Regions from separate parts of the Homo sapiens genome. Here region 1 is linked to region 2. Evidence: fine-mapped QTL for protein levels in blood plasma. A gene starts in region 2. The other region holds a variant in brackets. All regions are shown on one strand. Distances are from middle to middle. Region 1 overlaps XRN1 (5'-3' exoribonuclease 1). Region 2 holds the start of PCOLCE2 (procollagen C-endopeptidase enhancer 2).

Region 1 (5,234 bases), 540 kb before region 2:
TAAAGAGGTCAATTCAGCAAGAGGATATAACAACTGTATAAAAACAATTGTAAAAAAATATATTTCCAACACTGGAGCACCCAGGTATATAGAGCAAATATTACTGGAGCTAAAGAAAGAGATAAATCCAAATATAGTAATAGCTGGATACGTCAAGATTCCACTTTCAGCATTGTACTGACTTTCCAGATGGGAACCAAACAATATTTGGAAAAACCTGAATACTCCACCAAAAAACTATCAGAACTGATAAATTCAGTAAAGTTTCAGGATGCAAAATCAACATACAAAAATCAGTAGCATTTTTATATGTTAACGGCAAACAATCTGAAAAAGATATCAAGAAAGTAATTCCATTTACAATAGCTACAGATAAAACTAATTACCTAGGAATTAACCAAAGAGTTCTCTACAATGAAAACTATAAAACATTGATGCAAGAAATTGAAGAGGACACAAAAAAAGAGAAAGATATTCCAAGGTTCACAGACTGGAAGAATCAATATTGTTAAAATGTCCTATTACTCAAAGGGATCTACAGATTCAATGCAATCCCTGTCAAAATACCAATGAAATTCTTTACATAAATAGAAAAAACAATCATAAAATTTACATGGAACCACAAAAACCCCAGAATAGCCAAAGGTATCCTGAGCAAAAGGAACAAAACTGGAAGAATCACATTACCTGACTTCAAATCATACTACAGAACTATGGTAATGAAAATGGCATGGCACTGACATAAAAACAAACACACAGACCGGTGGAACAGAACAGTGAACCCAGAAATAAATCCACACATCTCATTTTTGACAAAGGCACCAAGAACATACATTGGGGAGAGAGTAGTCTCCTCAATAAATGGTGCTGGGAAAACTGGATATCCATGTGCAGAAAAATGAAACTAGACCTCCATCTCTTGCCATATACAAAAATCAAAATGGATTAAAGACTTAAGTCTAAGCCTAAAGTATGACAGTACTCAAAGAAAACATTGGGGAAACTCCGACACTGGACTGGGCAAAGATTTCTTGAGTAGTCCCCCACAAGCACAGGCAACCAAAGCAAAAATAAACAAATGGGATCACATCAAGTTAAAAAACTTCTACACAGCAAAGGAAACAATCAACAACATGAAGAGACAATACACAGAATGGGAAAAAATATTTGCAAACTATCCATCTGACAAGATGGATAATAACCAGAATATATAAGGAGCTCAAACAACTTTCTAGGAAAAAAATCTCATAATCTCATTAAAAAATGAGCAAAAGCTTCGAATAGACTTTTCTCAAAACAAGAGGCATAAATGGCAAACAGGTATATGAAAAGGTGCTCAGCCAGGCGCTCACACCTGTAATCCCAGCACTTTGGGAGGCCGAGGCATGTGGATCACGAGGTCAGGAGTTTGAGACCAGCCTGGCCAAGATGGTGAAACCCTGTCTCTACTAAAAATACAAAAACTAGCCAGGCGTGGTGGCACACGCCTGTAATCCCAGCTACTCAGGAGGCTGAGGCAGGAGAATCGCTTGAACCAGTGAGGCGAAGATTTCAGTGAGCTGAGATCGCACCATTGCACTCCAGCCTGGGCAACAAGAGCGAAATTCCGTCTTAAAAAAAAAAAAGAAAAAAAGAAAAGGTGCTCAACATCATTGATCATCAAAGAAATGCAAATCAAAACTATAATGAGATATCATGTCACCGCAGATAAAATGGCTTTTATCCAAAAGATAGGGAGTAACAAACGCTGGTGAGGATGTGGAGAAAAAGGTACCCCTGTATACTGTTGGTGGAGATGTAAATTAGTACAAACACTATGGAGAACAATTTGGAGGTTTTGTAAAAAACTAAAAATAGAGCTACCAAATAATTCAGCAATCTCACTGCTAGGTATATACCCCAAAGAAAGGAAATCAATATATTGCAGAGATTATCTCCACTTTCATGTTTGTTGCAGCACTGTTCACAACAGCTAAGATTTGGAAACAACCTAAGTGTCCATCAACAGGTGAACAGATAAAGAAAATGTGGTACATATACACAATGGAGTACTATTCGGCCATAAAAAAAGAATGAGATCCTGTCATTTGCAACAACATGGATCAAACTGGAGATCATATGTTAGGTGAAATAAGCCAGGCACAGAAAGACAAATTTCACATGTTTTCATTTATTTGTGGGAGCTAAAAATTAAAAACGACTGAACTCATGAAAATAGAGTAGAAGGATGGTTACTAGAGGCTGGGAAGAGTAGTGGGGGGGAGGGGTGGGAAGTGGGGATGGTTAGCAGGTACAAAAAAATAGATGAATTAGACCTAGTATTTGCTAGCATAATGGGGTGACTATAATAAAAATAATTGTATATTTTTAAATAAATAAGAGAACATAATTATGTTGTTTCTAACATAAAAGATAAATGCTTGAGGTGATGAATACCCTATTTACCCTGATGTGATCATTATGCATTGCATGCCTGTAACAAAATATCTCATGTAACCCATAAATATATATACCTACTATGTATCCACAAAAATTAAAAATAAAAGATAAAAAACAAATAAAAGGCAAGGATGCATGTTCTCACCACTTCTATTCAGCACTGTACTAGCTGTTGTAAACACAGCAATTAGGCAACAAAAGAAATAAAAGGCATTGAGATTATATAGGAAAAAGTAAAACTATCTCTATTTGCAGAAGCCACAAAAAATTAGGGCTAATAAACAGTTAAGGCAATATACAAAAATCAGTTTTATATCTATAACAGAAATGAACAATCAAAAAATAAAATTAAAAACCCAGTTCCATTGAAAAAAGCATGAAAAAGAGTAAAATATTTAGGAATAAATTTAACAAAAAAGTGTAAGACTTGCATAACTGAAAACTACAAGACATCATGGAAAGAAATTAAAGACCGAAATAAATGGAAAGACATCTTGTGTTCATGGACAGGAAAACTTAATACTGTTAAGATGACAATACTACCCAAAGTAACCTACAGATTCAATGCAATCCCTATAAAAATTCCAGCTGCCATTTTTGCAGAAATAGGCAAGATGATCATAAAATTCATATGGAAATGCAAGAGGCCCAGAATAGAGAAAACAATCCTGAAAAAGAAAAACAAAGAGGGCTCAAACTTCCTGATTTCAAAACTTACAACAAAGCTACAGTAATCAAGACTGTGTATTTCACATAAGGACGGGCATATACATTAGTGGAATGGAATTGAGAGTCCAGAAATGAACCCATACATCTACAGTCAATTACTTCTTAAAAATGAGATGGTGTCTTAATATGTTTCCCGGGCTGGACTCAAACTCCTGGGTTCAAGCAATCCTCCTGCCTCAGACTCCTGGGCAGCTGGTACTACAGATGCATGCCTGGCTCTATAGCCAAATAATTTTTGACAAGGGTGCCAAGACTATTCAATGGGGTGTCAAGAAAATTCAATGGGGAAAGAGTAGTCTTTTTAACAAACAATGTTTGGATAAATGGATATCCACATGCAGAAGAATGAATATGAACTCCTACATCATACCATGTATAAACTTTTACTCAAAATGGAAAGAGACCTAAATCTAAAAGCTAAAACTATACAATTCTTAGAAGAAAACACACTGTAACTCTTTGTGACTTTGGATTAGGGAATGGTTTCTTAGATGTACACCTAAGGTACAAGCAACCAAAGACAAAGCAGAAAAAATACACAAATTGGACTTCATCAAAATTTAAAACTTTCGTGTTTCAATAGAGTATAAAGAAAGTTAAAAGAAAACCCACAGAATGGGAGAAAATATTTGCAAATCACATATCCAAGAAGCATGTAATATCTAGCATGTATAAAGAACTCTTACAAACCAAGAAAAAAGATTAAAAAATCCAATTAAAAAATGAACCAAGGATTTGAACTGACATTTCTCCAAAGATGATATACATGAAAAGATGCTCAACATTATTAGTCATTAATAAATTACAAATGAAAACCACAAGAACATTCCACCTCACACCTAGTAGGACGACTATTGTCAAAGAGAGGGACAATAACAAATGTTGTGAAGGATGTGGAGAAATTGGACCTTCACACATCCCTGGTGCAAAGGTAAAATGGTAATATCCAAACAGTTCGGCAGTTATACAAAAAGCTGAACTTAAGAGTTACCACTATATGACTCAG[TA/T]ATTTCACTCATATGCATATACCCAAGAGAACTGAAAACATATGTTCACACAAAAACTTTTCCACAGATATTCATAGCAGCATTATTCACTATAGCCCCAATGTGGAAACAACCTCCATGTCTACAAATGGATGAACCGATAAAATGTAGCATTCATACAATGGAATATTATTCAGCCATAAGAAAGGATGAAGTACTGATACAGTTGTCCCTCCATATCTGTGGAAGATTGCTTCCAAGACCCTCCTGTGGCTATCAAAATCCACATATGTTCAAGTCCCTTACAGAAAATAGTGTAGTATTTGCATATAATCTACAAACATACTCTTTATATATTAAATAATCCCTAGATTACTTATAATGCTTGATACAATGTAAATGCTGTGTAAATAGTTGTCATACTGTATTGTTTAGGGGAATAATAAGATTAAAAAGTGTGCACATGTTGAGAGCAGACACAATCATCCTCTTTTTTTTTTTTTTGAGAAGGGGTCTCACTCTGTCACCCAGGCTGGAGTGTAGTGGCTGATCTTAGCTCACTGCAACCTCCGCCCCCCAGGCTCAAGCAATCCTTCTACCTCAGCCTCCTGAATAGCAGGGACTACAGGTGCATGCCACCACACCTGGCTAATTTTTGTATTTTTGGTAGAGATAGGGTTTTGCCATGTTGCCCAGGCTGGTCTTGAACTCCTGGGCTCAAGTGATCTGCCTGCCTTGGCCTCCCAAAGTGCTGGGATTACAGGCATGAGCCACCGTGCCCTGCCTTTTCTGAATATTTTTGATCCTCAGTTGGTTGAATCCATGGATGTGGAACCCACAGGTACAGAGGGCCGACTGAACATGCTACAACATAGATAAATCTTGAAAATACACAAGTGAAAGAAGCCAGTCATAAAAGTTCATATATTTTCTGATTCCATTTATATGAAGTGTCTAGAATAGGCATATCCATAGAGGCAGAAAGTAAACTATGGGTTGCCAAGGCCTGGAGGAGTGACTGCTAATAGGTATGGTGTTTCTTTTTCAGGTGACAAAAAATGTTCTAAATTTAGATGGTGG
Region 2 (5,244 bases):
CAAGGAAAGCTTTCACTGGACGTGCCCCCCAACCCCAGTCAAAGTGTAAAGTCACATCAACCTGTCCGCAATACTCAGAACACATGGCCAACCATGAATTTCTACTTGGGCACATGACGCCTCTGAGCCATTGATTTTCTAGGGTCGTTTAAAACTTATGGCCATTTAATTACATTTAAAACACAATCACGACATGAAAATCAAGCTGCTTTTATTTTTGTTTCAGAGACTTATTTGACATTTATGTTAATAGTATTTCAAACTTATTTTCTATGACTTCTTTCCTGGCCACATGTGCTATAATAACATAATGAAATCTGTACCAGTTTGTGACATGGTTGGCATTTTACAAGAGGCCGTCAAGGCATGTAAGAGCTGAGTTTTATATTATGGAAGGGGACCTCTCATATCTGCCTGCAAAATGACCTCAGTGGGAATACCTTATTGCAAAGTAGGTTTTACTTTTACATAAAGTTGGGCTTCCCGACTGTCTGATCAAGTCAATTTCTATAATTGTTTCAGGCCTCAGCTTCCCCATCTATAAAATAGGGATGATAATAGATACTTTCTCATACAGTTGTTTTGAGGATTCTGGGTGATTATACTTGCTAACTACTTGGCATGGTAAATGCCTGGCACACAGTAACTGCTAGTTTACACATTCAGTGGGGGCTACTTTTTAAAAAATCTAAGTCCTCCAGTGGCACAATCTGACTGAAAGAAGCTCTCAGTGAACCAACGTATTCAATTACTAAACAACTTCCCAACAACGAAAAAGTGAAGAAGGTAACAGTCAATGCTATGCTGACTGGAAAGATGACTCACTCTAGTTGACTCTAAATCAGTTAAAAAATATATGGCTGTCTCTAAATCCAGCTTATCTTGACTCAGCATAATCTATGTTATTACTAATCAGCATGGACTTTTTATTGGCCCTTGGCTGCTATTTAGATTCCCACCCCCCCATTCTCTATTCTTAGACTGCCTTTAGAGGTGGTTTCAACCCAGGAACATTAAGTGGGCTTTTTTTATTTTTTTTCTTTTTCCTTTCCTAATGAGCATAGAGTAGTCAAAGCACTATCTTTGATCTTCCATTTCCCACTGGGAATTTATGAAGGCACGAGCAACAAAAAACTTATGAAGGTCATTACAACAGGCCTTTGACTGAAAACAGCTTTAATTATGAATCTATAAAACTCAACTGAGTCACACTGGGCTTTCAGAAACACATCTGCTCTGAGAATTTATTCCTTCAAGCATTATCTTGTGCCCTTTGTAATCACTAATGCAGGACACGACTAGATCTATTATATTAATAAAAATCTTCCCAATAGTTGGGGTAAATCCAACATTTCACTATTTCAGGCATTTGCCTCTTACTCAAATCCTAACACCAGAGGAAAAAGGCAGCAGCCTCACACTGTTGCCAACACCCACTTCCAGGAGAATACCTTTTTAAAAAATGCTTACTGTGATTTTCCAAGTACATTTGCTATTTGGAGGGTACACTCCAGGAAAACCTTCACTGCCAATAAATCCAGACTCTCCAGTAAGAATGCCACCACATGTGAAAACAGGTCTGGGAACATAAAAGAAGAAAAGATAATGTAATTTGAAACATGGTCTAACAATCTGATGTTACCTTCAGAAAGGTGTAGCCTATTAATATAAATAAAAGTTAATGTTGATTAATCAATGCTTGCACCATATAAGGGATCTGAAAATTTGCTAGCTCCTAGAATATTTAAATTATAGCCTGACAAAGCATTCAGTCCAGCGCCATCTGTCTCCATCATAATAACACAAGATTATATATATGTATAATCAAGTCCTCGGCATTGTGGCAAAGTCTTGTAGGAAAATGGTAAATACATCAATTTAACTGGGGGAGTGGGAGAGAAGGTAAGAGCCAGGCTGAATGAGAAGCATGGTTTTAAAGAAAGACAGGCAAGCAATTGGTTAATATAAAAAAAGTTTGTCGTTCCCATATTTGGAGAGATGCCCAGTTCTCCTCCCCCTTTCTGAAAATCACTCGCCATTGGCAGAGCTTCCCATCGAAAGGGAGGCTGATGTTGATGGAGGCTGAAGAGGTGATGCCAAAGTTGGCCACCGGGCAGGTCCCACAGCCCAGCTCCTGGGGCCTTCCAGAGGTTGGCGAAGAGTTAACTTTCCGGAGCGGCTCCCTAGGCGCCGCGCCGCTAGGGTTGTTCCCTAGTTTACGTCTCTGGGCAAAGCCTCTCGGGGAAGGAAAAAAAACAGCGGTAAACCAAAATCCACATATTTGGGCCCCAGTGCTTCCCTCTGGCCCCATAGACACGAGGAGAGGGGAGACACAAGTCAGATTAAGCCCCGCCACGTGGTGGCCAAGCCAGCTGCAGGGCCATCCGGCAGGCCGGGCTGGGGACCCAGGAGGGAGCCCCGCGAGCAAGGATGGGTCCCGAAGTCCCGGGCTTAGCCTACCCGAGGGTGGCGGACGCCTGCACCGCGCGGGAGCGCAGGGTCGAGCGCTGGGTCACCCAGGCGCGCCGAAGCGGGTTGAGTAAAGCAGCAGGCGAGGCTGCAGGGGTGGAGGAAGGGAAAGGAGAGAAAGGGAGCCCGGGCAGGGGTCGCGTTACCTCTCTGGGGACTGCTGCCGCGAGAGCTGGGTGGCGGCAGCCAGCAGCAGGCAGAGTGGCGCCCAGGCGTTCGCGCCCCTCATGGCAGCGTAGACGCTCGGGGTTTGCACCCCACGGCGCGCGCGCCGGCACACACGCCCCTCCGCACCCACCGCGCTCACACCGCCGCTCACACTGGCAGCAGCGCTGGCTCACACCGGCGCTCGGCTGCCCGCGCGCTCCCTCTCACGCGCGCACCGCCGCGGGGCGGCCCAGGTAGCCGGGGGATACGCGGCCGGCAGGGCGGAGGCACTTTTAAAGGCGATTATGGTGCCGTCTGACTCGACGCTTAGTTTCCCCTGAGGAGCTGCTCTGGCAGCCACAGGCCACTGCTGAATATCCCGTTTGTTCTCCGGCGGCAGGAGGGGCGGCTCCGAGGCCAGAGCCGCCCCCTCTCGTGGGGCGGGCGAACGTCTCCTCCCGGCACCCCGGGACCGACGGGTCCTCTCTCGTCCAGCCCTCAGGGACCCCGGGGAGAAGAGGAACCCCTTGCGGAGTGGCACCCCAGCGGCCCGGGCCCCGACGCCCAGAGACGATTCTCAGGGAGGGCTTCTGGTTTTGCTTTGGGGAATGTTTTTCCCAGTTGCTTTTAAATAAAAAGTAATAGCGCTTGCTGGCTGCTGGAAAGCCTGGGGGTCCTTCTTTGTCTCCTTCAAAACCCAGATCCAAGGAAAGAAAGGGAAAAGGGATTTTATTGTATTTTAACTTCTGTGCTTATTCTCCTCTCTCTCTCTCTAGATACTTTTCTTTTTTTTACTGGTATGACAATGACAAGGAAGACAGTCTCTGTGCCGGGATTTAAACACGGGTTTTCAGGCGAGCGATTTCTGTGTGAACTGTCATTAAATGTCAGATAATGAAGACGGAACCAAATCAGCAAATCTCACCATCCCATGTCATGTTCTGAAAATGGTGTTTCTCTGCTTGCATCTCTCTGTTCTTAGACCTTTCCAACAGCATCTTTCTGTGGTATTAACGGGTTAAAATTTACGGAGAATTCGTTTTTCTTAGACGAACAATTCTAGCCTTGTGGAATCAATACTCTCTTTTACTTAATTACAGAAATATAATTTTAAACATTTATTTTGTTAAGAGCTTCCCAATAACCAGGGATTAATAAAAGAATGACAGGAACAGACTAGATTCATAGAGATTTTTAATAATCACCAGCTATGGGAGATACAGCTTAACTTTGATGCCTCACGTTGTTCCTTCTAAATTGTTTTCACCTTTCTAAGCAAGAAAATTAAGTATTAAAGTAGTTCTTATCGAGACTTTATTTCTAATAATGAGCTGTTAAGAATCTAAACACGGGTGGGCGCGATGGCCCACGCCTGTAATCCCAGCACTTTTGGAGGCCGAGGCGGGCGGATCACGAGGTCAGGAGTTCGAAACCAGTCTGGCCAAGATGGTGAAACCCCGCCTCGACTAAAAATACAAAAAATTAGCCAGGTGTTGCGGTGTGCGTCTGTAATCCCGGGTACTCGGGAAGCTGAGGCAGAAGTATCGCGTGAACCCGGGAGGCGGAGGTTGCAGTGAGCCGAGATCACGCCATTGCACTCCAGCCCCGGGCGACAGAGTGAGACTCCATCTCAAAAAAGAAAAAAAAAAAAAAAAGAACCTAAACACTCCTGGCAAGGAAGTAAGTAAAACTGGCTACAGGAAATATTCTGACTTTTCATAGTGAGTGCACCCTGAAGCCTATACTAGGAACCAGAATATACGGACAGGACTTAGATTATCTTACCATTTTTTTAAAAAGTGAAGGCAAAAACATCATAAAGTACAACTTTCAAAACTTCTCTACAGGCACCACACCCTTTATGACATTAAAAAAAAGGGTGACAGAATTTGGCAAACTGCTTTATATCCTGAAACACTCTCAACCCAATAAAAATGTCTTTAAAACAGGGAAGAGGAGAATAAATGGTTGTTGATTTTGCACGCATTTCAAGAATATGCTATCTAATAGCATAAGTGTTTTTAGATAATTGTTTATTTGAAAGTCATAGTTTTAAATTATAAAGGGAAATATTGCTCAATTCACTTTCTGGTAATGATTTGCAGTCCTCGTAAACCAGAAAATACTTCATTCAGGACTAAGCTAAGTTTTCAAAATTTAAAATAAATAACAAAGTATTAAATGTGCCTAAATAGGAAACTATTTGAACTAAAATACACAGCCATTTCTTAATTTATAGATTGATGACTGTGTTCATATGCTCACTAAAGAGTTAGGATTTTAACACCAATCATTCTGTTGTTGACACTCATAAGACATTGATTTTACCATGTGATTTTAGAATTTACTAAAACCCATATTATTGGCTCTTAAAAACACATATTTGACTTGGAACTACAGTTCTGACCAAAATTATAAACCTTAAATGTCCTGAGAAGTTGATGTGTTAAAATTGAGAGACTTTTATTAGTTTGTTCTCACGCCGCTATGAAGAAATACCCGAGACTGGGTAATTTATAAAGAAAAGAAGTTTAATTGACTCACAGTTTCACATGGCTGGGGAGTCCTCAGGAAACTTATAATCATGGCAGAAGGCACCTCCTCACAGGGTGATAGGAGAAGGGGAAA

What was found. PIP is the chance, under the fine-mapping model, that this variant and not a neighbour inherited with it causes the effect. Protein levels are from the aptamer-based SomaScan assay of Sun 2018.
Region 1: its variant is fine-mapped to the plasma level of the PCOLCE2 protein (Sun 2018, PIP 0.95).

What each region holds. Positions count from the first base shown.
Region 1 is chr3:142,341,842-142,347,075 of GRCh38, forward strand. All of the region lies in intron 33 of XRN1 (5'-3' exoribonuclease 1), which reads right to left. Among named protein-coding and RNA genes, the nearest start is that of XRN1, 100 kb to the right of the region's middle. The variant TA/T (reference allele first, on the strand shown) is at 4,175.
Region 2 is chr3:142,886,199-142,891,442 of GRCh38, forward strand. PCOLCE2 (procollagen C-endopeptidase enhancer 2) reads right to left here and starts at 2,885. Exons shown (of 9, transcript NM_013363.4): 1 at 2,616-2,885; 2 at 1,471-1,579. The coding sequence starts at 2,698. LOC124909443 (a long non-coding RNA gene) reads left to right here and starts at 2,066. Exons shown (of 2, transcript XR_007096122.1): 1 at 2,066-2,261; 2 at 3,393-4,569. RefSeq lists a silencer at 2,828-2,877.